Regions from separate parts of the Homo sapiens genome. Here all the other regions are linked to region 1. The links come from fine-mapping of genetic effects on gene expression. A gene starts in region 1. Each other region holds a variant in brackets. All regions are shown on one strand. Distances are from middle to middle. Region 1 holds the start of FAM149A (family with sequence similarity 149 member A). Region 2 overlaps FAM149A (family with sequence similarity 149 member A). Region 3 overlaps FAM149A (family with sequence similarity 149 member A).

Region 1 (8,180 bases):
GGCCCTGTAGGGGAGGAGTCATCCCTGCCTCTTCTTAGCGTCTGGTAGTGGCCATCAGCCTGGAGCACCCTTCGGCTTGCAGCTGCTTCACTCCAGCCTCTGCCTCTGTCATCCTGTGGTGCTCCCCCTGTGTGTCTGTGCCCACATCTCCCTCTTCTTAAGAGTATACGCATCGTACTGGACAAGGACCCATCCTACTGACCTCAGCTTAACTTGATTACATCTGTGAAGATCCTATTTCCAAATAAGATCACATTCACAAGAACTGGGGGTGGGACTTCAACACATCTTCTGGGGGCACACAACTCAAATGTGCCCACAGCTGGGACACATGCAGACACACCTTAGAGACAGAATGCTTTCAAGGCCAGGATCTGGAAGGGTATGCAGCTGTTCTCTAGCTTTATTTATTATTATTATTATTATTATTATTATTATTATTATTATTATTATTTGAGACGGAGTTTCGCTCTTCTTGCCCAGGCTGGAGTGCAATGGCACGATCTTGACTCACCGCAACATCCGCTTCCTGGGTCCAAGCGATTCCCCTGCCTCAGCCTCCCAAGTAGCTGGGATTACAGGGACCCGGCACCACACCCAGCTAATTTTTGTATTTGTAGTAGAGATGGGGTTTCTCCATGTTGGTCAGGCGGGTCTTGACCTCCCGACTTCAAGTGATCTGCCTGCCTCAGCCTCCCAAAGTGCTTGTCCATAGAAGAGAAGTGGTTATTGAGGGAAACATGGAAAGATCTAGAACCAGAGAGCCCAAGACAGCGGCATGAATGCACCACTGTTCAGGAACAGTTGCTCCTGAAGGAGAAGGGTGCTGGACTCTAATGGTTAATGCCCCCTGTATGTGAACCATATGATTCCTTCCCTTTGCTTTGATTCCACACTCACCTAACAACCATTGGAATTAATTTGGTCCTAAAGGGATTCCTCTTATGGGGAAAGAGCAGAGGATGGAACACTGCATCAGTGCTTTTTTTTTTTTTTTTTTTTTGAGACGGAGTCTCGCATTGTCACCCAGGCTGGAGTGCAGTGGCGAGATCTTGGCTCACTGCAAGCTCCACCTCCCAGGTTCACGCCATTCTCCTGCCTCAGCCTCCCGAGTAGCTGGGACTACAGGCGCCCACCACCACACCCGGCTAATTTTTTGTATTTTTAGTAGAGACAGGGTTTCACCGTGTTAGCCAGGATAGTCTCGATCTCCTGACCTCCTCCGCCCGCTCGGCCTCCCAAAGTGCTGGGATTACAGGCGTGAGCCACCGCACCCGGCCGCATCAGTGCTTTGTGAGTCAGATTAGTGGGGCTCCACACAGAGACACTGGTCAGCTGTGAAGGTGCTGGGCCCATCAGATTTCTGAGTCTGAAATATCAGGAATCCTGAGTTCTGGCAGCAAACAAGTGCTACCCCCAAGGATCTAGGTGAGCTGACTCGAACTTTGCTCCACAATGGCCCTCCCTTGCTGTTATTTCAAGTTCCATATGTTCAGATTCAATGGAGCGACTAGCCCCTTACTCACTGAAAGCACATACTCTAGAAATAACTTCTATTTGCATTGAAAGTGACCTGATATATTAAGGATTTAATTACTCCATGAATCAGAATAAGATCCTTGTAAGATGAACAAAATCTGTGGGAAACTGCTTTGCAGTCCTGAATGAGTGCTACATGAAAACAGTCCAGTGTTCGGAGGGAACGTCCAGACTTCTGAGGCTACCTGGTGAGTGCTGCAGAAGGGGAACAAGGGAGCACGAGAAAAGTTCATGGTTCAACAGCAGCCTGTTCCTGGTGTCTCTGCGTTGTGACGGAGTTGGCACTGCTTCCCTGGTTTGCCCCCAACCCTCTCCCTCTTGTTACCATTGCTGCTCTCAGAGGTGTCTGTTCTTAATTCCCTTTTTCTCTCATTTTGATTCTTCGCTGTGTGCTGGTGCTTCACACGCTGACGACTGCGTGCTCTCGCCTCTCCGAACATCCAAGGGCCTTTAAAATCTCACCCTAGTCACCCATGTCTCTTACTTCCCTTAGGCACACAAATGCTCTGCTGTCCCCAAGCGAATGTTGACCACGATGGCTGCCATCACCTGTGCTTGTCTTCCAGGGCACTCACGGGACACTCAGCATATGACGTGAAGCAGATTATTCCATGCTCTGGGAAGAGAACCGCTCTTTCTTTGCATGTCTGTGCTTAATGCAATCTTGAAGCAGACAAGTGCCCAGTACATGTTGGTGGCAGTTAGATGTAGAAAAGGGATCATGACAGAAGACTTGTTAACTGCCTCCAAATAACGCAAAACTTAGCATTACCTGGAAGTTTACCGTGGCTCAGACTCCAGTTTGATAACTTACAAAAGATTCAAGTATATAAGCATGAATGTCAGTTTATTCACTGCCAGACTTAATTCATCTCTTTTCCCTACCCCACATCAGGAAATGTATCTCCTGAGATCCTCTCCTGAATATTAATGGACAAACTCCATCAATATCTCATTACTATTTTTTTGACACAGGGTCTCACTCTACTGCCCAGGCTGGAATGCAGTGGTGCGATCACGGCTCACTCCAGGCCCAAGCGATCACCTCAGCCTCCCGAGTACCTGGGACTACAGGCATGCGCCACCAGGCCCGGCATTTTTTTTTTTTTTAAATATTTGTAGAGATGGGGTCTCCCTATGTTGTTGCCCAGGCTGGCCTGGAACTCCTGGGCTCAAGCCATCCTCCCACCTCCCAATCCCGGTGCTGGGATTACAGGTATGAGCCACCGAGCCTGGCTGCAGTATCTTATTTTTTAACTCTGTTCAACACTGACCCCACACCCCTTTAGATGCTCGCACCTATACGCTCTACCTTTCACACATATTTTTCAGATTAAGCAAAATACAATTTATTCCACTGAATAGAAAACGTTGCCTTCCATATCTGTCTTTGAATTTGTAGTCGTTCCGATTATAATTTGAGTTCTCAAACATTTGAATTACACAGTCTCTTGGTTCACTCCGACAGGTGTTTAAACAGGTGTGCGTAGGTCTTTCTACTTCAGCTCTCAGAGCCGGTCTTGTTTGCAGGTTAGTGGGTGGCGCACCTCGCGGTTGCTCCCACCCCACCCTTAGTAACAGGGTTTGAGTAGGACCCTGGGGTGGGGGAGTGGATGCTGCTGTTTCAAGCTCGTTCGCCCAAATACATCTTTCTACCCACCTTCCCTATCGTCAGAGAGGTGGCCTGACCCCAGCACGTGCAAGCTTGTCAGGCTGGGTAAGTTCCAGAACCTTCTGGAGCCAGGATTCTCTTTCCCAGCCCTGGGCCCTGAGCTCGGCGGATGGGATCTGCGAGGCTCGGGGCGCAGGGGAAATGGGGGCGTGTTCCTTTAAGGCGGAACCAGGCGGGGAGTGGGACGTCCCCCGCGGGCACAGCCCGAGCCGCACCTGGGGCCCAATTAGCCTGGAGCGCGGCCGGGTGTGTTGAACGTAGCAACCGCGGGCGGCGGGCGGCGGGCGGCGGGCGTCTGGGGCGGGCGGCGGCCGCGCTTCCCGGGGCTCCTGGCCCTTCGGCCCTCGGGGGTCTCACGGCGCTGGGACGAGGCGGGGCTGCTCTCCGCAGCCGGGGCGCTCGGCGGACGGACCCGGGCCGGGGAAGGGCGACCCCAGCGGCGCGGAGCTGAGCGTCCTCGGGGAGGAGAGGGAGCCAGGGGCCTCCGGGGCTCCGGGTGCGGGGACCTCAGGCTCCTCGCCCCGGCCCGGGCCGCCTCGGCCGGATCTCCGCGGTCTGAACTCTCGGGCGGCGGCGAGGACGGCGTGTCCACTGTCGAGGCATGAAGGCTGCTGTGCTGGACCTTGGGTCTCTCTTGGCCAAACTCTTCGAGACCTCGACGGCGCCCCCCGCAGGCCCCTCCTCCAGACCCTCGGGAGGTGCTGCCGCTGCAGGGTCGGGGGGCTCCAGGGCGGGCACCCCGTTGGGTACCGCCCCGACCCTCCTCCGCGCCCTGGCTCCGGACTCCCCCTCCGCCTCGCGGCGGTCGCCCGCCCCGCTGCTCTCCTCCCCCTACTCCCGGGGCTCCGCCGCCAGCCGCGCCGCGGGAGCAGTGGGGACCCTGCTCTCTTGGCCCAGTAGCCCTAGAGCGGGTAAAGCCCCGCCCCAGCCCCCCACTCCCTCCGGCGGGGGCTGCTCCCCTGCTCGCCTGGTGGTCCCAGCGCGGCCGCCCTCGGGCCCCGGCGGGGTCTGGGCCGCGCTCCCCAGGAACCCGCTCCAGCCTGGCCCCGGAGAGCGAGAGCTCGGCGCCTGCGTGGCCCCCGGGGCTGGCCCCAGAACCCTGTTCCTTACGCTGCCTGACATCGGCGAGGAGGGGGCCTCGGACGGCGACTCCGGGGATGGCGAAGCGTGAGTAGCAGCGTGGTCCGGGCGCGTGTACCTTTTGCCGGGACCCCCGACCCCTCCGCCTGCCGCACTCACCTTCGCAGGTGCACTTCAGGAAATGAAATATTTGTAGTAACTTTCATAACCCCCTGGGCACCCTCCTTGCACGTTTCCTGGGTTTTTACTCCTTGGCTTTGCGGGCTTTCAGACATAAGCTGTGACATGCTTTGTCCAGCTTTCTCAGAGTGAATCCTAAGGGGCCTTGAAGGAAGGGACAGAATTTTGTTTCTCTTCTACCAGAAGCATTGCTACTTAGAGTGTTTGTTTGGTTTTCTTAAGGACTTTTTGAAGTCCCTTTCTTTGTCTCAGAATATAGCAGGTGTGCAGGGAAACCGAATACACACGTCTGCAGCAAGTGTTTTAAGAAGTGGTGAGACCTGGTGCTTTCCTAATGTCTAAGGACCAGTCCCTAGTCTTATCCTAAGTGGGATGGGTCTCCTTTGTGTGACATCTAGTTAATTTACATATGCATGACATCATCTGACACAAATGGAGTTGTAATGGCCAGGACACGTCTGATTATTACCCTAGAGCTCCTGAGAGCTTTCCACAGTGCCCTGAGTCACTGCAGAAACGTTGACTTCATGGGAACATTTTCACTGGGAATCGGAGGCCGATTCCCTCAACACACACACACCCACACAACACCCCTTTCACTTCCAAGAGTCGTGATAAAAACATTGCTCTTTTAAAATGTGTTTTAGAACTAGGATGAATTTTAATTTTTAGAGTGGAGCATATCGTTAGCTATTCTTGAGTGGGTAAATTTTCATCCTGAATGCTGCAAAGAAATAGTGAAATGGTCAAAGACAGATGAGCCAATTCACAGACTGAGGTTTCTGCATTGTAATCTAGTGAGGCCATTCCCTACTCCCTCCAAAAAATCCTGAGTAATTTTTGCATTCATACTGATCCTGACTCACTCACAATTTAAATAATTACAGTTTCACAAAATTGAATGATATTCATGTCAATATGAAAACAAGCGGCCGGGCACGGTGGCTCACGCCTGTAATCCCAGCACTTTGGGAGGCCGAGGCGGGCGGATCATGAGGTCAGGAGATCGAGACCATCCTGGCTAACACGATGAAACCCCGTCTCTACTAAAAATACAAAAAATTAGCCGGGCGTGGTGGTACGTGCCTGTAGTCCCAGCTACTCGGAAGGCTGAGGCAAGAGGATGATGGCGTGAACCCGGGAGGCGGAGCTTGCAGTGAGCCAAGATCGCACCATTGCGCTCCAACCTGGGCGACAGAGAGAGAGACTCCGTCTCAAAAAAACAACAACAAAAAAGAAAATAAGCAGTTAAGCAAAAAGTTGTTCCCACTCATTAAAAAATACTATATTATGACATATGTTTATCAACTGATAGTTTTCCCTATCAGTTAATTGCTTTTGGAAAACTCACTGGAATACATATGCCTGAGGAATTAGATCTTTGTTATTGGCAACTGGTCCTTAACATTTATGCAATTAATGTTTTATGAGCAAACAGATCTACACACTGACCTTAAACTCTAGTCTTAGTGCTTTTAACAAATAGGCACTGAAATATGCAGCATGGCCAGTGAAACTGGTGTTAGTTTCAATTCTTGAACATATTAGCTCATGTTTATATTGTGCAAATATTTGGAATAGATACTTTTTGAATAACACTGCATTTGGCATTATTTACATAAGAGATTATTCTGAATTAACAAATGCATTCAATTTTATGGACAGTGAAGAAATTGAATTTTTAAATTATTATTACTTTTTGAGATGAGGTCTCCTTCTGTCACCCAGGTTGGAGTGCAGTGGTATGATCACTGTTCATTGCAGCCTCAACCTCCCAGGCTCAAGCGATCTGATTCTCCCGTCTCAGACTCTCGAGTAGCTGGGACTACAGGTGTGAGCTACTATGCCTGGCCAATTTTAAAAATGTTTCTGTGGAGACGGGGTCTCCCTATGTTGCCCAGGCTGGTCTTGAACTCCTGGCCTCAAGCAATCTTCCCACCTGGGCATTGCTGGGATTACAGGCATGAGCCACTGCATCTGGCCATGAAATTGAATTTTAGGTAAGTGCCATGAGAAGTAATATACACAGCTAGGTGCTTTGCAGAATCCTCCTGAGTTTGTGTGTTCCTACTGTCTGCAGCAGCAGGTAGAGGCACACACAGGCAGGAAGCAGACTGGCCCTCTGAGCATACCATTTTTCCTTTCAGATCCACGACTACTCACATTCCCTTCCTCTCATCATACCCCACTCCTTTTTCAATCACTAAAACATAAGAGACAAAGGGGAAGGAAGAAAGTATTAAGACGGCTTTTCTTTCAATACTGCAGACTTTGCACCTTGAAGGATTCTTTTTCCCTCCTGGATTTCTGTGGTAGTGATTTATAACACCGAATAAACAAACATAAGACAATGAATTTAAATTTGCTCCTACCATCTCATCTGTCACTTGGCAGATAGCTGCTGCTGTTAGCCTGTGTGGTTAATATTAAAATCAGGAATTTAAATTTCAAAAGCCTGGAAACTTGGAAAGGGAGAAATGGGTAATGTCAGAGAAAAAGTTTAAAGAGTGATGAGAATGTGAATACATATAAAGGAAACCGTAAACCTGTCTGCAAGAAATGCGGATCTAATTTTAAAGCTGTGGCCCTGAGTTCTAAAGGAAAACCCTATTAGCAGTTTGTACTTTTTTGACAATAACGCATACATTTTACATTTGCCTGATTCTGTACTTGGCTTTAAAAAAAAAAAACAAAAAACTAAAAGTAGTGAAATTAACTTGAGTAGGAAAATATGCAAACTCTCCTGCAATTTAGAGGCTTTTTTCCAAGCAAAGATGCTGAATAGCAGCAGGGGTTTTTAATCTCTGACCCAAGAATTCCGTAAGTGAAAGGCCCATGGAACAGAGGCTGCCCCTTTTGCTCCACAGGGCGTACTGACTGCACATCTGAGCCAGAGGCAGAGGATACTGATCTCTCTGTCTTCACCTCACTTTCCTGCATCCCTGGATACGTGATCCAACACCTTTGATCTTCACCTTGGCTTCCCTGTCCATTTCATGTATATATTATGCCTCAGTGTTTTTCAGTCTCACTCATCCCTCTTCATTACCTCTTTTCATACTTCTGGTTTGAACCACACAATACACCTTGTAAAGGTCTTATTCTCAATCTCTGGTTTTTTTTTTTTTTTGAGACGGAGTCTTGCTCTGTCGCCCAGGCTGGAGTGCAGTGGCGCGATCTCGGCTCACTGCAAGCTCCGCCTCCTGGGTTCACGCCATTCTCCTGCCTCAGCCTCCCGAGTAGCTGGGACTGCAGGTGCCTGCCACCACGCCCGGCTAATTTTTTGTATTTTTAGTAGAGAAGGGGTTTCACCATGTTAGCCAGGATGGTCTCGATCTCCTGACCTTGTAATTTGCCCGCCTCGGCCTCCCGAAGTGCTGGGATTACAGGCTTGAGCCACCGCGCCCGGCCGGTCTTATTCTCTTATTTGTTCTGCAAATGTAAGAATTCCTAGCAATACGTAAGGTGGATAGATAGATAATTGCTGTGTATGAATGTTGGTAGAGTGTAAACTTCTAGTCAGGAAGTATTTATAGCTTGTATAAGTCATAGTTATTAGCAAGCATATATTCACTCTTTTTTTTTTTGAGTGATTGAGTTCCATTGTTAAAATCACATTACTGTGGAAACATTGCAGTGGCTGCTTGAAGGGCCTGTCAGCATGGCTGGCAGTAAAGTGACTAGAGGGACTTATCTCGATTCCTCTGAC
Region 2 (8,180 bases), 37 kb after region 1:
TCTGATCCGAGACAGTTTCTCAGACTTTCTTGTTTTGATGATCACGACAGTTTAGGGGAGTACTGGTCATGTGTTTTGTAGAAGGCCGCTCCGCTGGGGTTCGCCTTGTGTTTTTATCATGGTGAGACTGGGGTTATGGGTTTGGGGGGGAAGGCCACAGAAGGGAAGTGCCTTTCTCATTGCCTCATTGCAAGGGTGCGTGTCAACATGACACATCACGGATGGTGCCAGCCTTGACCACCTGGCTCCGGGAGTGCTTGTCAGGCTGCTCCCCTGTAAAGTCACCCCCTGCTTCCATACTGCACTCTTGGAGTCAAGCTTCCATACTGCACTCTTGGAGAAGAAGGTATGATGCCCGCCTCCTGGAAGGGGAGACACACACCACTGGGGTAGAGTTCTTCTGTGGGAAATGTGCCTCTTCTCCCCATTTATTTATTTATTTGTTTATTTCTATCAATATGGGCTCATAGAAATGTATTTTGTACTTTAGTTATAATCCGATAGCACATGATGTATTTTGTTACTCAGGTTGTTCTAGCTTTAGCCATTTGGGGCTCTTTCAGGATGGCTCCTGTGACATGCTCTCATTCTTCTGTTGTTTTGGTTTTTGTTTTTTGAGCACTTTCCTACAGTCTGGCAGTACAAGATGCTCCAGGTACATTTTATATTGCCCTGCCTCAGCCCCCAAATCGGCCACTCCTCCATGGAGCCCTGGTCCCTCTATTGGAGAATAGTATTTGGTGTGGTCTGAATGTTTGTATCCCCCAAAATTCATAGGTTGAAATCTCTCTCCAATGAAATGGTACTAAAGGTGGGGCCTTTAGGAGGCGATTAGGTCATGATTGCAAAGCCCTCGTGAGTGGGATTCATGCCTTTATGAAGGAGGCCCTGGGGGCTTCTTCACCCTTTTGGCCATGTGAAGACACAGCTGGAAGGCACCATCTAGGAAGCATGGAGCCGGCACCAGACACTGAATCTGCTACCACCTTGATCTTGGACTTCCCAGCCTTCAGACCTGTGGGAGATAGGTAATGGCAAAAACTGCAGTTACTTTTGCATCCACCTAATACGTTTCTGTTGTTTATAAGTCACCCAGTCTATGGTATTTTGTCATAGCAGCCCAGATGGACTAGGACAGTGTTAGGAACTAAGATCTAGGCACTGGAGGTGCTCATTGCTACTGGAGACAGCTCTATGGTATAGAGAGATGACATAGTTGTATGTATATGTTTGTATTTGCAAAGCAAGGCCACAGTTCTGATATGCACAAGTTTCAGTTTATATGATACCCATGTAAAGCCAGGACTGCTCGTACTGGATAAATGTAAAAAACTGTATGTAACTTTTGTGTATTATATTGCATAATATTAAAATGAACTGGTTTAATACTCCACCTAACAAAAAAAACCACTCTCAATGCTTTAAATGCTGAAAAAAGGAATAATTTACAATTTATTATGTATCTATATGCAGTTTCCAAAATTTGTCTCTAATTCACACAACTCTACAAGGAAGACAGTAATATTAGCCTTGTTTTAGCTAATTTCTGCTCACAGCATTAAGTTATCAGCTCAGGATTGCATGGCTAGGGCAAGACAGAGCCAGCACGTGAAATCAGGTCAATTTTTAGAGGAGTTGCTTATAATTTTTGGAATAACTTTATATCTTATATTACTAATTAATTTTCAGAGGGTGATCACATAATCACATATACCACTTTTTATTTTTATTTTTTGAGACAGTGTCTTGCTTCGTCACCCAGGCTGGAGTACTGCAGCCTCCATCTCCGGGGCTCTAAGTGATCCTCCCACTTCAGTCTCCCAATTAGCTGTGACTACAGATCCATGTGAACACACCTAGCTTTTTTTTTTTTTTTTTTTTTTTTGTAGAGACAACGTCTCATTATGTTGCCCAGGCTTGTTCTGAACTCCTGAGCTCAAGAGATCCTCCTGACTTGGCGTCCCAAGGTGCTGAGCCACTGTGCCCAGCCTATACCATTTTATTTTATCCTAATGAATTCGCCAAACTAGGCTAAGGGAGATCCTATTATTTTAGGAATTGAGGTCTCCCATTTAATGACTCTAATTACTGATCCCAGGGCCCCATGCCATTAAAATGTAAAACACTTAAACAATAAGATAGAAATAGTTATGTACTTTTCAATTCTCAATTAGGGTTTAAATAATCAATGAAAGATGGAAAATCGTATGGACTAAGTACAGGTAACATTGTATTAGGTTCTCCAGAGAAACAGAAGCAATAGGAGATACATGTCTACATCTATATTTGTATATATCTGTATAAAGAGATTTATTACAAGGATTTAGCTCATTGATTATGGAGGCTGACAAGTCACAAGGCCTTCAAGGTGAATGGCCAAGTTGGAGATCCAGGAGAGCCAGTGAAGTAGTTCTGATCCAACTTGCCAGCATCTGGTATTTTTAAGAATAGCCATTCTGACTGATGTGAGATGGTATCTCATTGTGGCTTTGATTTGCATTTCTCTAATGGTAAGTGATGTTGAACTTTGTTTTATGTGATTGTTGGCCACATGTATGTCTTCTTTTGAAAAGTGTCTGTTCATGTCCTCTGCCCACTTGTTTATGGGTTGTTTTTTTCTTGCAAATGTATTTTTAAGTTCCTTATAGATACTGGATATTAGACCTTTGTTGGATGCATGAAATATGTTATTGGTGTAAAATACACACTGGATTTCAAAACTTAGTACAAAAAAATTAAAAATATCTAATTACCAATTTTTATACAGATTACATGTTAAAATGATAATTTATATTAGATTAAAATATATCATTAAAATTAATTGTACCTGTTTCTTTTACTTTATAAATGTGGATACTAGAAAATTTAAAATTGTATGTATTTACATTATATTTCTACTGGGCAGTGGTGGTCTAAACCAATCCAACGTGAAGATTTTATCACTTTAATCTTTAAGCAAGCAGCATAGCTTTAGGTTTTGAAATTTGAGAGAAGAGACAAATGAATTAAGGAACTGTTCAGGTTTTGAACAGAAGTCATAAGAAATATAGAAGTCAAGACTTGCTGGGTTTGTGAAACTTTGACCATCACAGTCTCTCTGGGCAAAACTGAAAAATGGCCTCTGTGCAAAGATCAAATCCTAGGCAGGGGTAAAGGTGAAATCAAAGGTTTGGCTTAACAAGACGTCAGATTTAGGGGTGTCTCATAGATCCCCAAGATAATAGGGCTTTAAAAAATCATAAGAGAATTGGCCCCCGGCAGTCTCAAAGGTGGACCAAGGGCCCATCTCAGGTCAGTGTGGTTTGTAACTAATGGATGGGGTGAACTCTGATAAAATTCAAAGAAACCCACAAGGTATTGGCAGAGTGATGGAAGCGCCACTGGCTTGAACTAAAAGAGGCACAGACTTTTGGACCCCCTTCCCCAGCCTTCCCTGGAGGAAAGCAGGCTGAGAGGCTACTTAGTTGCAAACCTAGGCCATTTCTTTTCCCTGAGGAAGTCTCGGTAGAAGCAACAGCCCAGAGGACAGAGCTAAGGGCTGGGGAGAAGGCAGGAAGCAGAAGTGAGTCCTCCTCAAGGCAAGGCAGCAGGAGCCTGCTGGAACCCGCAGTGGCTGCTGCCTGGCTCCGCCACCTCTCTTGTTGGACAGGTGCCCACTGGGGATGTCCTGGCTCTGTCTCACCATTGTCGGTTGGGTGTGGAGAAGGCTGTTGCCTTGTCTCTCTAGTTCGCAGGTCTTCAGATGTAAAGGAAATACCCAAGCAGAAGCCTCATCTGTACGCGGACATGCTTTAGATGATGAGACTTCTGAGCATCTTGAAAGAGCTGAGTGTATCGTGCATGTGTAAATGACCTGTGGCCAGAGGACGGTTATGGCGGATTAAAGACGGCTGTAGGTTCTTCCCATTGAGAGCTGGGGTCTATTTTCCATCTCTTTCATTCTGGGACTGCTTTGATTATGGAGTACAGTGGAGGTGACACTGCCAGTTGCCACCTTGAATAGAGCTGACGGCTTCTGCCTCGCTTTCTTGGAGCCCTAAGCTGCCACGTAGAAATTCCAACGACTTCACTGGAGGGACCACTCAGAGAAGTGTTGAAGCTGCATGAGAGAAGGCTCAACTGAGCCCAGACTTCCAGCCACCCCCGACTGCATGGTGTAGACACATGAGTGAAGCCTTCTTAGAGCCTCCACACCAGACCACCCTCCACCTGTATGCCACTGAGCAACCCCACGGGGAGCAGAAGAAACACTCAACCTGCCGCAATTCCTGAGTTCTGTGGATTATGAGCATAACAACATGACTGTTGATTTAATCTACATTTGGGGTGGTTTGTTATGGGGTAATAGATATCTGGGACACATTCACACATATACATCCTAGCTGTGTGACCTCGAACATGTTACTTAAGGTCTCTGACATCAGTATTTTTATCAACAAAATTGTAATAATAGTGTCTACCTACTATGGGTGTTAAATATATGTAAGAATATATGTAAAATAATATATATAAAAGTAAAAGCAGCTAGCATATGTTTGGATCTTAAATGACTTTGTGTTCGATTTTTACTTTTTTTTTTTTTTTTTTTTTTTTTGAGACAAGAGTCTTGCTGTCTTGCCCAGGCTGGTCTTGAACTCCTGGGCTCTAGTGATCCTCCCATCTTGGCCTCTCAAAACACTGCGGTTACAGGTGGGAGCCATCACACCAGACTCCTTTCTTTTGTTTCCCTGGCATGCCCATCCTCCCACCCCTGGCAATATAAATAATATCAGCAAGTCTGTGTGGGCTTAAGATACCATAGTTTTCCTGATAGATAT[G/GGA]TATACACATACACACACATCACACATATACACATATACATGTATCAGGATTTAAAATCTCATTAATTTTATAATTTATAACCACTTACCACTTTTATAAAAGTGGGGAGGATTCCAGTGTTCTTAGTTCAACAATGGATTACTGTTTTGTTTGTGTTTGTTTTTTTGAGACAGAGTCTCCCTCTGTCGCCCAGCCTGGAGTGGGTGGGGCGATCTCCGCCTCCCAGGTTGAAGTGATTCTCATGCCTCAGCCTCCTGAGTAGCTGGAATTACAGGCACGCACCACCACACCCAGCTAATTTTTGTATTTTTAGTAGAGACTGGGGTTTCACCATGTTGGCCAGGCTGGTCTTGAACTCCTGATCTCAAGTGATCCGCCCACCTCAGCCTTCCAAAGTGCTGGGATTACAGGCGTGAGCCACCCTGGCTGGACTACTGTTTTTGTTATTGGTAGTGATTTCTTGTCACCGTGCTAGGGTGGTGCATCAGAAATAAACTGGGCTTTTTAGTAAAAACTCGGAAATACATGGTTTACCTCTGTAAATACGGGATACTTGGCAGGAGAAATTGTACCTGTTGAAACTTAGATGGCCTCAGCTCTCAAAAGAGACTGGCTACGGCAGGACGGGGATGAGTGTTGTACCGGCACCCAGTGCACTAACTGTCATTACTAAAATCCCTGTCGTGGGAAAGGCATGCCTCGTGCAGTGCCCACCCTCTGAGACTCAAAAATGTAGTTCACCTCCGCGACCTCACCCCTTCTTCCCTTAGCATGTGAAAATGACGGCTTGGCAGTTTCACCAGCTCACAGGAGAGCGTCCAGCTGCTCTGCTCCTGGTATAATCCTGGGCCTCCAAAACTGAAACGAGCACATGGTAACGCAAGCGGCAGGCATGCTCGGGGTGTGCAGGAGATGCACCGGCTTGTGTGAGCCGGTAGGGCAGGACGGGCGTGGAAGGGTCCACGTCTTTAGTATGCATGCTTAGATCTAGCGTTCCTGTTGATGGAGTAATGGTTCTCGCATTGACCAGATCCGGGGCTTCATTTTTTAAACCTCATTCGTCCACTCCCCACCCCAGCCTGGTGTGCGCACCCTTTGATGGGGCGGGGATAGGCGAGATGGTCCTGTGGTTCTCTGCCTTCTTCTGGTGAATTAAAATCCGATTTGGAAGAGAGAAGGGCAGCCAGCACCAGTATGCACAGCCCCCGGCCCCAGAGACCCGGGAAGGAGTAGGGAGGCCGGGCCGTGCGCGGAGGAGTGGCCGCTGGGTTGGAAACCCGGCCCGGCAGGGAGCGGGGAAGGCGCGCTTTCCCGGAGGTCGGCGCGGGGCCGGGGCCGGGGCCGGGGCCCGGAGCGGGGATGGGCGGGCGCAGCCGGGATTAGCTGGCGGGCGAGGGCGCAGCGCAGGGAGGAGGAGGGGAGGCGGCGCCGGCGCGGGCGGGGCGGAGGATCTGGAGAGGGAAGGGGCGTGCGAGCCCCGCGGACCCCGGGCGCGCCCGGGCCGCCTGAGCTGGGCCAGCCGCGCGGCGGGCGCGGGCGCGGGCGCGGGCGCGGGCGCGGGCGGGTGGGGAGCCCCAGCCCCGGGGCCGCGGGGGCGCGTGACCGGCTGTCTGCGTGGGGCCCGCGCGCGGTGCCTCTGCCTGACGGTGCCCGAGCCTAGCGCGGAGCCTGGCGCGGGGGCTGCGAGCACAGGCCCGGGGCTGATCGTAATCGGGTGAGTCTCATCCGGCAGCAGGGCTCGCCTTCTGGCCGCTCTGCAGGCGATGTGCGCGGTGTTCTCCGCCCGCGGGCCGGCTGCGTCTGGCCCGGGCTTCCCTGCAGGCACTCGGGAAGCGTCAGGCCGGCCCCGGGCATGGCTCACGCGGGGAAGCGTTCGCCGCCAAAGGGACTCCTTCGTCACTGCGGTCGCTCCTGGGACTTGCTGGTGTTGGGTCAGGGCGGTGTGAGTGTTCCGTGCTGAGGAGCGGCTTCCCATGGCCACCCTGGAGTGCCCCTGTGTGTCCCCCCATCCAGAAAACCAGCCTGCATTTTAACCCGTTCAGAGTACAGTGCTTATGTCAGACAGTCCTGTCAACTAGGAATAGAAAATTTTGAAAGCTGCTGTCACTGACATTAGAATTTCTACAAAGCAGTGTGGCAGAGGTTTGTGGGCTGTCAAGAAGCAACCTAAAACAGTAACTCTGGATGATGATTTTCCTGACAGCTGGAATGGAGTCATGGAGATTGGAACTCACCCTTAACCTCCATGCGCCAACAAATGAGTGCAGTCTAGTTTAGTGACTGCACTTCAGTCCACCCTACGAAGACCTGTCCCCAAATCAACAGCCTTGCTCTATTTAAACAGTATGGACAGGAACTAGTATAGAACTTGCATGTCTATGTTTAGAAGCTTCATGGACATGCCACCATATTCAAGTTTTAAAATACCTGTGGGATGCATCCTGTAAGTTGTGTACACTTTCTTAGACTGTGTAGGATACAGAACTAGTCCATAGTTTATAGGGGATTAAAGAGGTTCAACATTATGCATGAGGGACCAGTAACCAATCCTTGGTTAGAGAACAGAGAAACCAAAGAACCAAAACAAGATGTGAAAGAGAAAAAAAAAAAGAAAAAGACAAGAAAGGGATTTTGTAGGCTCTGCTGTTAATTCATGATGTTAGTAACTTGTGCCACTGGAGAGACAGGCAGGTCAGTGGCCTGGTTCCTCGAAGAAACTCTGTCCCTATCTTCTTTGTGCTCTTGGGCAATCATTGAGTTACGGACTTAAATTCCTGTTCACCTCGTTTTTTTGTGAATTGTGTGGTCAAGTTTGTATGTTATTACACTGAACTCTGAAGCTCAAGAAATTGCTTAAAAGGAGATACAGAGGGGAAGGTCAGAGAGGAAAAAAGAGGGAGAAATGGCATGGAGTAGGGGAGTTTTAAGGCACCTAATTCGTAATAATTGGTGTGACTGTTACCCAACTTCCCATTTCCCCCTGCCCTGCATCCCAAGACCTCCTGGGCTCAGCTCTGCGTCCAAGACAGTGGGAAGCCTGGTCCTGGAAAGGATGTGGTGTGATGTGAAGAGAGATGAGTTCCTCCGTTTTGTAAATAATTTTCTCCTTAATTTGAAAAGAGCTTCCACCCTTTCCCCTGAAAAAGAGTGAATTTCCTAGAGGAATAAATTATTCATTGAAACAAACTCGCATGCGTCCCATTTTGAATTTGGCTTCAAAGTTGCACAAAAGCAGGAGGAGGAGCTAGAAGCAGGATAGACCGTCTTGAGCAGAGCAGATGCTCCGTTTGGCGGTGAAAACCATTTGGGGGAATATCAGCTGCCCAAAGAAGAGCTGTGACTTTTTAACGAGTAAAACGTTA
Region 3 (8,180 bases), 47 kb after region 1:
CTGTGCTACACCAGTTAGGCTTAATAGTTTATTTAACATCTAGATATTTCTTCTGTTTTAGTTCTTCATTAAATTTTAATATCTTCTAACTCTTGAAAACTCAGTATACCCACAAACAGCAATGCTAGATTAAAGCAAGTTAGGTGTCTGTGTGGCTTCTGAGTCTAAAGAATTTGATGTTTCTTAATTAATATGGGATTAATGATTTTTTTACTGGAGGAGTGGTTGGGTTTTGTAAGTAAGTCCCTTGTCCCTGGTCAAGGGACAACTGGGACCTGAAATCCCTGAAATACTGTGAACTGTTTGGGGCAACTTTTCCTTCTCTGGCTGAGTCACAAAAAGTTGATGTTGTCTTCAGTTCACATAAAGGTACATATAGGTTAATGGCAACCTTGATTTTAAGAAAAAGAAAAATGATGACATCCTAAGTCTCAGTTTCATCAGGATGGGGTGTGTGTGTGTGTGTGTGTGTGTGTGTGTGTGCGCTCATGCACAGGTGGGTTTGGAGGGATGTGGCAGAACGAGAGGAGCAACTTTGTATAAAAGAGAAATTTTAAAAGTCTTAATGAATAAAACTATATTATTACATTAGGGAGACTCGTCATGTTTTATTTTATTTCCAGAAGAGGACTGTCAGAAGGACGTAGAAGGCACGGTTTTACTGTGAGGAGCAAAGATTCTTTACCTACGCATTTTACAAGAAATGTGCAGAAAGCCATTGATAAATATACCTGGTAAGAATTCACCTTGCTTCAGATTACAAAATCACAAAATGCCCGTAACAAATGTGGGAAGGAAGTTAGTGACTGGCCATGAATTTCTAAAAGTAAGATGCAGTTTTATTTTTAACCTAGTGTAAACATCACACTGTAAAAATATTTCAAAATTAGTATACTGTGAAATTAATAAATATATTTAATGAAAGAAAGAGGAAGCAGGCTCAGAAAAGTGAAGCCACTTAGCCATCCAAGCCCTTCCAGCAAATGTGATTTCTTTGCTCATGTTCATTCCTGCAGCAAATCCTTGTCATCCTTTTCCTCCAGCGGAAGCCATACACCCACGGGAGCCCACACCTCTTGGTCTGGGTCGGCCACACAGAGCTCTACCACCGGCTCATCCACGGAGAGGGGCTCCGTTTATTCCTGGAGAGATGACGTATGTCTCAGAATATTTTGGATAATCTTGTAATTACAGTTTATAGTGAAGAGTTGCTTCCTTATATTCAAAATTATTTTTACCAATTATAAAAGCATGACCTATTGCATACATACATGTACATACATGTAAAAGCATGTACATGTTACATGTGAAAATAATAGATCACGAACCGTGGAGGAAAACAGAACTCCCTCGTGACCTTCTGGCCCCGTCTTAGCTGCCCGCAGTTTTCTTGTTTCCACCCTGCAGCCGGCTCTCCGGGTGTGTGCTCCTTGTGACTTCTTGGATGGTATCCATGGCCGGAAATTCAGGACTTGAATAAGAAAGAAATGCTGGAAAAGTAAAAGCTGTGGCAGCCACTGTGATTAGAGAACTCCCCGCCAGTATTCCCAGTCGGATATTTCACCTTCACCCCCTACCGCTGGGGGCGCTGTTGCCTCTGAACTGCTTTTGTCTGTGTGAGCCTGGGATTCTGGCTGGGCGAGCTCTGCCTCCACTGCTCCAGCTTGCTCAGGAGCTCACTGGCTCCAGTCTCCTCCCTCCCCCTCCCTCCAAGGGTCTCCGTGGATCCCAGGACACAGCCCTCCTTTTTAAGGCCCACCTGGCTGCAGCACCTTGGGTGTTCTGTTTTACCTCGTTTATGCTGGGTGTTTTGTTGTTGTTGTTGTTGTTTTTTGCTTGCTTGCTTTCTCTCTCTCTCTGTCTCTTTTTTTTTTTTTTTTTTTTTTTTGAGACGGAGTCTCGCTCTGTCGCCCAGGCTGGAGTGCAGGGGCGCGATCTCGGCTCACTGCAAGCTCCGCCTCCCGGGTTCACGCCATTCTCCTGCCTCAGCCTCCCGAGTAGCTGGGACCACAGGCGCCCACCACCACGCCCGGCTAATTTTTTGTATTTTTAATAGAGACGGGGTTTCACCGTGTTAGCCAGGATGGTCTCGATCTCCTGACCTCGTGATCCGCCCGTCTCGGCCTCCCAAAGTGCTGGGATTACAGGCGTGAGCCACCGCGTCCGGCCTTTTCTCTCTTTTTTTTTTTTAAGACAGAGTCTTGCTCTGTCACTCAAGCTGAGGTGCAGTGGTGCCATGTCGGCTCACTGCAACCTCCGCCTACCAGGTTCAAGCAATACTCCTGTCTCAGCCTCCCGAGTAGCTGGGATTACAAGTGTGCACCGCCATGCCCAGTTAATTTTTGTATTTTTAGTAGAGACGGTGTTTCACCATGTTGGCCAGGCTGGTTTCGAACTCCTGACGTTGTGATCCGCCTGCCTGGGCCTCCCATGGCATGAGCCACTGCGCCCAGCCTCTTTGCTTTCTTTAAAAGTGGTTCCCCACTCCCACTGCACATGGGAATCCGCTTCTGTCCGCAGCTGTGCAGCTGTGATTCTCAGGGGAGCCGGCAGGGCAGGTGCACCGAGGGGGTCTGAAAGGGACTCAGCTCAGCACTGCTAGGAGGACCTTTCACGCACGCAGCTCCCTTACTTAGGGGCAGCTGCCTCCTTCCTCTCCCTTACGCCCACTCACCACCATCCCTCAAGCCCGCCTTCCTTGGTAGAAGGCTGAGCACCACTGCTTTACTCTGTCCAAATTCTAGGATTCTTTTAGTACAACGTTTAATGGAATTACCAGGGAAATTCGTATAACTTCCATTAATACTCAGGCCTCACCCTAATAACCACACTTCTTAGGATAACTAAGGATTTTTTTTTCCAGTTCATTGATTTAAGGAGATTAATGGCCTTTTCTACAAAAGTAATTTTCTTTTCTGTGGTATCACCAGAAGAAAAAAAAATCTTGTATTTTGCAGGTGTGCTTAGGTGTGTCAGGCACAGCTCTGTGAGGAGCTGCCTGTGTTTGCAGACATACAGATGTGGACGTGTCTGTGTGTCTACGCTGATGTCTGTGGCAGTATGAACACGTCCATCTATACCTCTATCTATGCAAATTCTTGAGTCTCATAACTTCCGTGGCAGAAGTTTTCTCTATTTAACAGTAAAAGAATCCGAGGCTCAGAATGAGATGGCATTTCTCAG[A/G]AAGGTAACAGCTAGAGCACAGGTGTGTCTGACTGCAAAGCCACCATCTTTTTACCAAGTGATGCACCCTCCTACATAGTGGGTGACAGTAAATGTATAAGTAGCGTTGATCCAGAAGCCCGCAGTTCTGTAACTTGCAGTGTTGTAACCAAGTGTGCATTTCTGTTTAGGAATTTGACGAAGCCAGTTCACAGTCAGTGCAGCGGTTACTCTGGGAGGTGGAGGAAATGTTATTTGAAGGGAAAGTGAACCCTCAGACCCAGAGTCTGCTGGCCGAATGCGGGGAGTGGACAAGAAGATCCCTCCATTTGAGGTGGGACCTTGGTGGTGGAAGTTCTCTGGGGTGGGTTTTCCAAGCACCCACCCCTGACCTGCCTCGATACATTCAGTACATTTGGTGTGAAAGTGCCTGCCCAGTCAGAATATGGATGCAGAGCGCAGTCCTTCACTGAGAGATCACTTTCCTCTTACGGCGTCTGAGGAAATACTGAGACATTCCAGTACTCAAGCGCCTTTTAATTTGTGAGAAGCAAATTCAGGCCATCCTGAGAAGGGCATGACACATATACGAATGCAAGAATGGTGGAGGCCACCTCTTACCTTCACATTCACTGTGTGTGAGCAGCACATGTCTGTCTTCATCACAGAACACAGCGAGGGTGGGCAGAGATGATTTGCTGAACGGCTGGATAGATGGGTCTTCCCATCTCACCCATTCCTTATGTAGGGAGGAGCATGTGTTACTTTTCATATCAAAGATGGAGAATATGGATTGGGTATGAAGGCAAGCTTTTCTTTTCTTTTTGCTTTTTTTTTTTTTTTTTTTTTTTGAGATGGAGTCTTGCTCTGTCGCCCAGGCTGGAGTGCAGTGGCGCGATCTCAGCTCACTGCAATCTCAGCCTCCTTGGTTCACGCCATCCTCCTGCCTCAGCCTCCCGAGTAGCTGGGACTACAGGCACCTGCCACCACGCCCGGCTAATTTTTTTTATTTTTAGTAGAGACGGGGTTTCACCGTGTTAGCCAGGATGGTCTTGATCTCCTGAACTCGTGATCCGCCCGCCTCAGCCTCCCAAAGTGCTGGGATTACAGGCATGAGCCACCGCGCCCGGCCAAAGGCAAGCTTATCTTTCAGTCACTCAGCCAACGTACTGGGGGACAGTTTATCAAAGTTACCTGAGTTCCTGTGGATTCTGTCTGGGGAGAATGAATCAGAACACTCATGTAAATGTGGCTGGATTTCCTGGTTACATTCACTAGGTAACTTTTACAGAAATCTTGACCAACTAGGGTTGTTTTTTTTTTTCTTTTCAACCCTTAATAAGCCACCTGCCCTAAAGAGTATGATATGTCCACTAGATACTAGTTGTGGATACTCACTTTTCTGGGGATGATCACTCACCAGAAATTCGGGAGCTCACACTTATTCTTGTCACTGCTGTCTTACATCATTGATAGAAATGGAGGGAAGGTGGGAAAAGATTGTCAGGTACATAAGCCAAGTGTGCATATTTATATATTTGTATTCTTGTTATGTTTGTGTTTAACTGTGTATTAGTTAATATGTATGGAGGGCTTCTTTGTGCCCAGTGTTGCCTTAGACACCTGAGTCTGTCATATATGATCTCTAAGCCATTCATCAGCCCTGCAAGGTAACCATTATTATCCTGTTTTGCAAATGAAAGACAAACAAATGAAATTAGCCTGAGAACCTTGCCTGAGACTGAGTCAGTGGAAGAACAGTCTGGCCTAAACTCTCAAAGTCACACTTCTGTGATGCGTGATGCTTCCCACGTTCCCATACACATCTTATCATACACATGCCTTCAAAATCATTGTCTCCTACTTTTAAAATCTCCAAACATTTTCCCTTTGTCTGATCAAAAATGTCAGTAGCTTCTCTTTGACCTCGCAGAGTATTAGGAAGACAGCTGATCCTGCCCACTGACAAAGGCGTCCAGCATTTCCAGGGCAGCACTCCTGCCTCCGCAGTCCACAGACCCCCGCTCAGTGCCTGCGGACACAGCAGCAACATCAGAGAGTATGTTCAGATAAGTGACTCTCAAAAAGTATTGTTAGCTGTATTTTAGTTATACTTTTTCATGTTTATCTCATCTATAAGCCTTGGCTCCACCCATTTTGGAAATTTAGATTCTGATGAAGGGCAGGTACAGAGAACAATTTTTATAAGAAGCTTTTGATTCTGAATTGATGATAGGTGTATATGTGTGTATATAGAGAGATGTGTAATATATATATGGAACACACATGCACACACATGGTAGTTACCTTCCATGTTTGTTCCAAAGGCGCTGTGAAAGGTGGACTGGGTGCAGGATGGAAACCGCCTCACTGTGATGGATTATAAGCCTCCAGGCGGTGGCAGCAGGAGAAATGAAGCTCTGTCCTGTCGTTTCTGTTCACTAGCAGATTTTGATGACTCTATGCCATTCACACATATTTGGTGTGCCGTGACACAATGCAGTCCTTTCACTGCAACCAAAGAGGGTACAAACTCATAGAATAATTTAGGCTTTTAAGAAGCCCTTAAAATGTTTAATGATGCCTGTATTAAAGTGTTTTTAAGGACGTGAGTTTTGTCCAATGTAATATTCAACCGTTTTGGGAGGGGGGGATTCTGTACTTTACAGATAATTGAAAGATCCGCCATGATCGTTTAAGCATTGCGTTCTTGGTGTTCTATAAACTCCCATGTAGAATCTGTTTTTTTCCCATAGGTTGTGCATTTCTGGCTCTCAAATAGTCCCAGCAGCACTCTCAGCCTCTGCCCTGCCAGGCCCTGATGACACAGGGGTTGCTGACCTAACGGCACGTTCATCCCTGGAAGAAGAGGTTTACCATGTGGATGGAAAGATTGAGGAGTATTTCGCTTTTGACAGAAAAGAGGAGTAAATAGAATCTTATTTGACATTGACCTCATAAAATAATATTAATTTATTTGACATTTATTGTTATCGTATGCTCATTAAGTGTTTTGTGTATTTTTTACTCACCCAAAAGATTTCTGTTCTTTTGAGAGTAATGTACTCCCCAGAGCTTTTGGATTCCTAGCCAGCGGTGCACGTGCGGGAGCAGCGAAGAGGGTGTTCAGTGCCCTTGTAAAAGCAGACAAGGCTCCTCGCAGCCCTGGTCCTGGGGGCTCCAGGTTCCCCAGCCCTGGCTGCCCAAAAGGGCCTAAGGGGAGTTCCTGCCTCTGTACTAAATTCGTATTTTGTTCTTTTTTTTTTTTTGAGACGGAGTCTCGCTCTGTCGCCCAGGCTAGAGTGCAGCCGTGCGAGCTCGGCTGACTGCAAACTCCGCCTCCCGGGTTCACGCCATTCTCCTCCCTCAGCCTCCCGAGTAGCTGGAACTGCAGGCGCCCACCACCACGCCCGGATAATTTTTTGAATTTTTTTTTAGTAGAGACGGGGTTTCACCGTGTTAGCCAGGATGGTGTCGATCTCCTGACCTCGTGATCCTTCTGCCTCGGCCTCCCAAAGTGCTGGGATTACAGGCGTGAGCCACTGTGCCCAGCCTTGTATTTTGTTCTTAATCAAAAACTACAACTATTACATGATAAAACTTTGCCCCGTGATTGAAAATTGGCACATTAAAAAGTAACACTGATAAAACAAGTCTTAACACATTTGAGAAGACTGAAATCAAGCATCTTTTCTGATCTCAGTGGTACAAAACTGAAAGTCAATAACAGGAAGAAAACTAGAAAACTCACAAATATGTGTAAACTAAACAACCTGCTCCTCAACAACCAGGCAGTAGGTCAAAGAAGAAACCTAAAGGGAAATCAAAAAATATAATGAGACAAATTAAAATGGAAACACAACATATTAAAACCAAACTTATGGGGTACAGTAGAAGCAGCTCTAAAAGGGAAGCCTATGGCAATAAATGCCTACATTGAGAAAAAAGACATATCTGAAATAAACAACCTAACTTTATACTTGAAGGAATGAGAAAAAGAACAAACTAAGCCCAAACTTAGTAGAAGGAAGGAAATAACAAAGCTCAGAGCCGAAATAAATGAAGAGACTAGAAAAAAAAAGAAAGATCAATGAAACCAGGAGTTGGTTTCTTGTTTTTATTCATGTGTAATGGAAAAAAATTATATATGTTAAAAAAGAACGATGCTGTTTAACAAAGAATGTTTATTAATATATGTATACATGTACATACGTGAATGTGTGTAGATAGAATTATTTTAACTCTAAGCATTGATCTTTTAGTAATTGGAGTGGGTTTTTATTCTTAGTGATGATGAATGTCTTGAACAAAAACCAGCTCAGCCCGGTAGGAAATGGCGCAAACTCGGACTTCCTCCTGTTTCCCCGCGTGACTGTGTCAAAGATGCCGTGGCAGCAGAAGTGTTTGATCACGTCTGGACAAATATGGTAGAACTTTTGGAAGAGCTGATTAGAAAACACTGGGAAACTACACTCACAGGTACTTACATGCAGAATTTAGCTTAATGAAAAGAAAAAGTCCCTGTTCTTCGGCCCTGGGCTCCTGCTCCCCAGCTTGGCCAGACCTAGAACGTGACCAGTGAGAAGACAAGTGGGTGTTCTGACTTTACTCATGAGTGCTCTTTAGTCCCTTCAAAAAGGACGCTATTGTTTTTTGTGTTATAAAAAATAATGCAGGGCTGGCTGGGTGCGGTGGCTCACGCCTGTAATCCCAGCACTTTGGGAGGCCGAGGCAGGTAGATCACCTGAGGTCAGGAGTTCAAGACCAGCCTGGCCAACATGATGAAAGCCTACCTCTACTAAAAATACAAAAATTAGCCGGGCGTGGTGGTATGTGCCTGTAATCCCAGCTACTCGGGAGGCTGAGGCAGGAGAATTGCTTGAACCCAGGAGGTGGAGATTGAGATTGCAGTGAGCAGAGATCACACCACTGCACTCCAGCCTAGGCAACAAGAGTAAAACTCCATCTCAAAAAAAAAGAATGCAGGGCAGGCATGGTGACTCAGAACTTTGGGAGAC

What was found.
Region 2: its variant is fine-mapped to the expression of FAM149A in adrenal gland (GTEx, PIP above 0.99).
Region 3: its variant is fine-mapped to the expression of FAM149A in skeletal muscle (GTEx, PIP 0.98).

The regions. Positions count from the first base shown.
Region 1 is chr4:186,101,265-186,109,444 of GRCh38, forward strand. It overlaps FAM149A (family with sequence similarity 149 member A), which reads left to right and starts at 3,440. Exons shown (of 14, transcript NM_001395294.1): 1 at 3,440-4,378. The coding sequence starts at 3,813. LOC124900171 (a long non-coding RNA gene) reads left to right here and starts at 6,430. Exons shown (of 2, transcript XR_007058421.1): 1 at 6,430-6,471. RefSeq lists a silencer at 3,360-3,419.
Region 2 is chr4:186,138,581-186,146,760 of GRCh38, forward strand. All of the region lies in intron 1 of FAM149A (family with sequence similarity 149 member A), which reads left to right. Among named protein-coding and RNA genes, the nearest start is that of FAM149A, 38 kb to the left of the region's middle. RefSeq lists enhancers at 5,172-5,672, 5,673-6,173. The variant G/GGA (reference allele first, on the strand shown) is at 4,818.
Region 3 is chr4:186,148,550-186,156,729 of GRCh38, forward strand. It overlaps FAM149A (family with sequence similarity 149 member A), which reads left to right. Exons shown (of 14, transcript NM_001395294.1): 2 at 624-734; 3 at 1,017-1,155; 4 at 3,354-3,496; 5 at 5,096-5,221; 6 at 5,919-6,089; 7 at 7,451-7,641. Among named protein-coding and RNA genes, the nearest start is that of FLJ38576, 39 kb to the right of the region's middle. RefSeq lists an enhancer at 171-1,370 and a silencer at 1,389-1,584. The variant A/G (reference allele first, on the strand shown) is at 3,184.